Regions from separate parts of the Homo sapiens genome. Here region 2 is linked to region 1. The links come from fine-mapping of genetic effects on gene expression. A gene starts in region 1. The other region holds a variant in brackets. All regions are shown on one strand. Distances are from middle to middle.

The links. PIP is the estimated chance that this variant, and not a neighbour inherited with it, causes the effect. A credible set is the group of variants that fine-mapping cannot tell apart.
Region 2: its variant is the best candidate, but not a certain one, in a credible set for the expression of FREM3 in prefrontal cortex (ROSMAP, PIP 0.71).

The regions. Positions count from the first base shown.
Region 1 is chr4:143,699,161-143,702,077 of GRCh38, reverse strand. FREM3 (FRAS1 related extracellular matrix 3) reads left to right here and starts at 1,403. Exons shown (of 8, transcript NM_001168235.2): 1 at 1,403-2,917. The coding sequence starts at 1,403. RefSeq lists an enhancer at 1,379-2,036.
Region 2 is chr4:143,635,573-143,638,489 of GRCh38, reverse strand. All of the region lies in intron 2 of FREM3 (FRAS1 related extracellular matrix 3), which reads left to right. Among named protein-coding and RNA genes, the nearest start is that of FREM3, 64 kb to the left of the region's middle. The variant TA/A (reference allele first, on the strand shown) is at 1,238.

The DNA.
Region 1 (2,917 bases):
TGAAAATCAGCTGATGCCGTTGCTGCTGTGAATAAAACAGGCATTTGTAACACGGTAAAAAACTAAAAGAATAACATGGGGATAACATTTAAAGATTTCTATTCCCCCTTGAAGCCATTTCTATCAATATAGTTTGTAGACATCTATTTTTACTGTCATCAAAAAGTCTCTCACATTCACATTAATTTTATAAGGAAGCACGTTACTATTACTACTACTTTATTTATAGAAAAAGATTACTCTGCACTGTAACTAAATTGGCTATTTTAAAACTTAAAAAATTAATAGGATTCTGTTAAGTACCTAACACTACATCCATAGTCACCTTCATCTGAAAGCCATGAAGAGACTGATTCCAGGTGTTAAATGATTGAGCCACAGAAATTGATCCAAGTATTCTGCTACTGTTTCCTTTGACATCCTCCCCTCTGGCTACTGTCTACGAAGAAAGTAATTAGAAAACAGCATGTCTAATAAACTAACAGGCAAGTCATTGTTGATCAGATATGGAAACCACATTCTAAGAAAACGAAAGGAAGCCGAGCCGCACACCTGATTTTGTTATGTGAGACCCAATGACAAAAAAAAAAAAAAAAAAAAAAACCCAGATTACAAGCTGTTCAAGTAAGTTTGGGTGCTGATTTTCTTTTTCAAAACCTGAGCAGAAGAAAAACGTCAGGGTTGTTTGGAAGCACCGAATTACAAGATCCTGAATAAGCTGCTTCATCAGACAGACAGCTAGAAAATCCTATTTGCAAAATAGCTCCCACCAGCTTCTTTTATGTCCGAAGTGAGACTCAGTTTTTGGCTAGAAGATACACTCCTGTCAGCGGTAAGGAAGAGGAATGGTGTCTCTCCCCCTTTTCAGAAACACCAATCCCTGGATGAATGGACAACAGGAGCTCAATCTCACAGACGCAGGACTGACCCGAGTACAGTCACCGTCTCTCTCCCAACCCTGAGGGACAATCCCTTTGTGGCACCTGGGGAAGAGAGTATCCAGACAGCTGGTCGGAGTCTGGCAGCGCGGGCAGCAGTGCGGCGGCCACGGCTCCCGGCGAGAAGGTGTGTAAGGTAGGCTGGGTGAAGCGCCCAGGAGCGGAGGGGACAGCGCTGCACCCTCGCTAAGTCTCGCCGCGCTGGGCGCGTATCTGGGGTCCCCAGAAGCCAGCAGAGAGAGACTTGCGACCGGGGCTGAGCAGGAAGTGGGCAGAGCCCCTTCCCCCGCTGCCGTTACCTGCAGCAGCCGAAGCGCAGCCGCTGGCTCTTGCTGGATCCGCAAGTCGGCTACCGACTGGACAGCAGCTACTGCTTCCACTGCCTGCACCTGCCGCTCAGCAGATCCCTCTTTGCACAGGGCACCCCACCCCGGGAATCCCAACGCCAGGAGCCATCCGTGGCCATGGCGGGGGCTTCTCGGCACCCGACTGGGACGCCCCGGCAGCTCCTTGTGGCGCTCGCCTGCCTGCTCTTGAGTCGCCCCGCGCTGCAGGGACGGGCATCCTCACTTGGGACCGAGCCCGACCCGGCGCTTTACCTGCCCGCCCGGGGTGCGCTTGACGGCACTCGCCCCGACGGCCCCAGCGTGCTGATTGCCAACCCTGGACTCCGGGTGCCCCTGGGTCGTTCCCTTTGGCTCGACCCGCTCCGGGATCTGGTGATTGGAGTGCAGCCGGGGGACCGGTGCGAAGTCACGGTACTGGACGCCCTGCCGCGGCTCAAGGGCGCGCTCTCCCCGCGCCGCTTCCCCTGCACCTTCGGGCCCCGCCAAGTCCAGTACACTCACTTCGGCTCCCACAGCCCCGGACGCGCCCGGGTGCTGCTGCAGCTGCGCTACGACGCCCCGACTCACACTCTGGTGCTGCCCTTCACGCTGGCGGTGGACTTGGTCTTCTCCCAGCTGGAGCTGGTGACGCGTAACAGGCCTTTGGTAGTGGAGAAGCTGCGAAGCTGGAGCCGCGCCATAGACAGGAGAGTGCTGGACTTCGCCTCCCTGAAGTCTGGAGCCACGGCCACCCGCAGGTGCCGGCTTACCCCACTTCCTCACGAGGACGGCCCCCTGCCCAAGTACGGGCGCTTGGTGGACGCGGTGGGGGCCCCTCTCCCCAGGGGCAAGGGCGTAGACTGTGAGGCTTTCCTCCGTGCTGGGGTGCGCTATCAGCACACAGCCACCTCCTCGCCCAACCGTGACTACGTGCCCATGATGGTGGAGCTGCTGGGGCCTGAGGGCCAAGACGCTGGGTCCGCGGGTGTGCTGGTCCGCGAGCACTTCCAGCTGCTCGTGAGGATCCGCGGCGGAGCCGAGAACACACCGCCCAGGCCCAGCTTCATGGCCACGATGATGATGGAGGTGGATCCACTGGTGCTGACAGCCCTGACGCCTGACGCACTGGCCGCGGAGGACGTCGAGTCAGACCCTGGTGACCTGGTGTTCAACATTCTGAACGCCCCCACTCACCCACCAGGGCACCCGGGGCAACAGGGCTACGTGGTCAGCACCGACGACCCTCTAGGGCTTCCAGTCTCCTTCTTCACCCAGCAGGAGCTGAGGGAGCTGAAGATTGCCTATCAGCCCCCTGCAGAGAACTCCCATGGGGAGCGCCTCTTTCAGCTGGAGCTGGAGGTGGTGGACGGAGACGGCGCCGCCTCAGACCCCTTTGCCTTCATGGTGACAGTGAAATCCATGAATACTCTGGTCCCAGTGGCTAGCCATAACAGGGGACTTGTGCTTTTTGAAGGTCAGTCAAGGCCCTTGTCCAGCACCCACAGCATTCCTATCAGTGATAAAGATAACCTGGAAGAGGTGAAAATGGCTGCAGTCAGGGGCTTGAGACATGGGCAGCTGGTGGTGTTTGGGGCACCTGCTGGGTGCAAGTATTTCACACCAGCGGACCTGGCAGCAGGGCGAGTGGTGTAT
Region 2 (2,917 bases), 64 kb after region 1:
ATATTACATTATATTATATTGTTTTCTCTGGAATAAAGAGTTTGTTTCAACCTCCTCCTTAAATCTTGTATGCTCCTGAGAAGGTACAATGTTTTCTGCCTTCCAGTTAAGCCATGTGGAGCCTCAACTCCCAAAAAGAGATGGCCCATGTGGGCACGCAGTGTATTTCCACTTTGCTACTAATTGAAAGCTTCTGCTAATATAATCGTTTTTAAAAACTCTCTAATGTCTTGCTTTGAGACTTCTTTGGGTAATTTTATTTTGTGTCAAAAGCAGAATGTGGTGTCCCTGTTGAGGCATGCAAAAGAATCTAAGAAAAGCTTGTGGTCTTTATTATTTCACACTGTTTCCGCTGTCCTTATATTGAAGAACACTAATTTAAGAAGGAGAAAAAGGGCACGAAAACTTGTATTGTTATACATAGCATGACATATTGGGTTTTTATTCTCCAAAACGGAGAGCCAAATATATCATCAAGACAGTTTGGGTACATCTCCAAAAAGAATACACCAAACACCTCTCAGTGAACAGAATTAGAGCTAGCAGTCTTGACACCTGCCACCTTCTTCTCTCCCCACCCACCAACCATGTGAGCACAAAGACCTCTCCCTCCACCACCTGCCCCACATGTCCAAAGATTGCAGAGGTGGATTTAAGAGCATTGTCTGTGAGTGGCATCTCTGCGGCTTAGGAGAATACAACTAGGAAAAGGACCACATAAATCTCATATCTTTGTTGTTCTTTTGGTTTTTTCCCTCTTTTCTGAAAAACCTATGGGTTATTTTGTACGGTTGCACAAAATAGCCTATTGTTCCTCAAGAAGAGAATGGATATGAGCCTGTAATGTTGCAGTCTCCAAAAAGAGAGCCACCTGTCCCTCCAAGCTCCAGGATGTGAGTGGTGGCACCCTGAAGCACTAAGAGGGCACAATCAGGGAGACCCGGTGAACAGTTGAATAAATAGAAGTGAATTAAGCAAAAGCCTGAGAAATGGAACTGGACAATCAAGTGGAATAATACCCTTATTTGGGAAGGGAATATGGCAAATTTCAACCAATAAGACACATTTTTGAAATTGCTACCAACAGCTCCAGGAACATGGGAGATAGCCAGAGGAAGAAAATGGAGACCTAGCTGACATGCAGTTTGGCTTTTTCTGTTACCTAATCTGCCAATTCTTCTATTCCAAGTTACTTTCTTTTCCTTAAATTTATAGTTCTATTGGAAAAAAAGACCAT[TA/A]TATTTATCATCTGTAGACATGTAACTGGAGCTGTGCATGTGAAGTCACAAGTCAGAGTAACACATTTCTCACTGTGAAGCATTTTCCAAATGACAATGATACTAACTGACACTATGTGACAATTGCTAAGTAAAGGTATTGTTTCCAAATGCATGATGAATGGGTGCTTATGGAATTCAAATACACTTTAAAACTACATTATGGTGTGAGCTGTAGAAGCTAAATGCTTATGACAATGAAGCTATTTGAAAATGTTATGAAGTATTAGAAAACATAAGCATATATAATATTAATTTTTCTTTAAGTTATTAAGCACTCAAGATAGAATATCCTAGTCAACTAAAATTTTTTCCAAGTTTAAGTCATAAACATTTAACATTTGACAGTGGCTGCCACTTTATCATTTGGTAAATGACTTTACCTATTTGAGAGTCAGCATTTATTAAATGCATTTTCAAAATTTATTTAGTGGTATATAATCTTTTTATTTTGTTTTTATTTTTGTGTTTATTTTTCAAATTATTGCACTTTTAAAAGAGGAGATTATATTAGAAATTAGAATTAGTAATTAAGTTATATCAAAATTAAATCTTCCTAAATATAGTATTTAGGTAAAATACTTGATGTCTTTTTCCCATATTTTTTAACCTAATGGGAAATAATTGTGAAAACATAAATGCCATTATGCTCTTCACATTTTGATAAGTTAAAAATTCTGCAGTTGGATGTTTTTCTCTATTATTACTTTAATAGTCACTTTCTAAGCCATTCCTATTCCTCAGATTTCTATTTTTCTTCACTTTACTGTGCACTCAAATCATTTTCTTGTACTGGCTGGTCCTATCAGAGCCTTTCTACTGATTCCTGTCTCCTTCAGCTTGACCATCTCTCCATGTCTTTTTTTTTTTTTTTTTTTTGGACAGGCTGCACAGTGCCCAGCCCAATATTTACCTCGTAATGGGCATCTGGTGCATGTTGGTCCCTCTTTACTCTCATTTCCCAGTATGAGGTTATATGTTTTCCTTTCTTTTTTTTTCTTTAGAACATTAGGACATCAATTTTATTCTATGTAGTTTAAAAAAAAAAACAAAAACAATGTTTTCTACTGTTTTATGATGTGAAGAAAGGAATTTAATAATAAAAGCTTAAGTTATAAAGATGATATTTGTCCTGCACTCCCCTACTTCTGAGGTCTCTCACACACAATGTTTCTTTGCACCTCTTTACCCCCACTTTATAGATGAGGGAGCAGATGAGAAGTTGCCTAAGGCCAGAGAGCTACTGTGTGAGTGAACAGTGTCAGGTCTTGCCAACTGAACCTGACAACCTGATGCTTCCACTTCAAAATACTGTCTGAAAAAAGTGTGATGGTAAATCAAACCCCACTAAATAGCTCTTCTTCATGACTTGTAAACTCTGATTTTCTCACATGGAAAACAGTTTTATATTATGATTTTCCTTGGATTAATTTAGGCAATGCTAAGACTACCTTTTGAATTCAATAGAGAGTGTTTGATTATCTACGCCAAATTCAAATCTAAAATGTTTTATCATTCTTCTAAAACACAGTCATGTGAGATATATGAAGATTTGTATCAGATTCAGTAAAATTATTTCATTTCACCTACACCAGTAGTTCTTAATCAGTGGTGATTTCCCCCCAGGGGACATTTGGCAA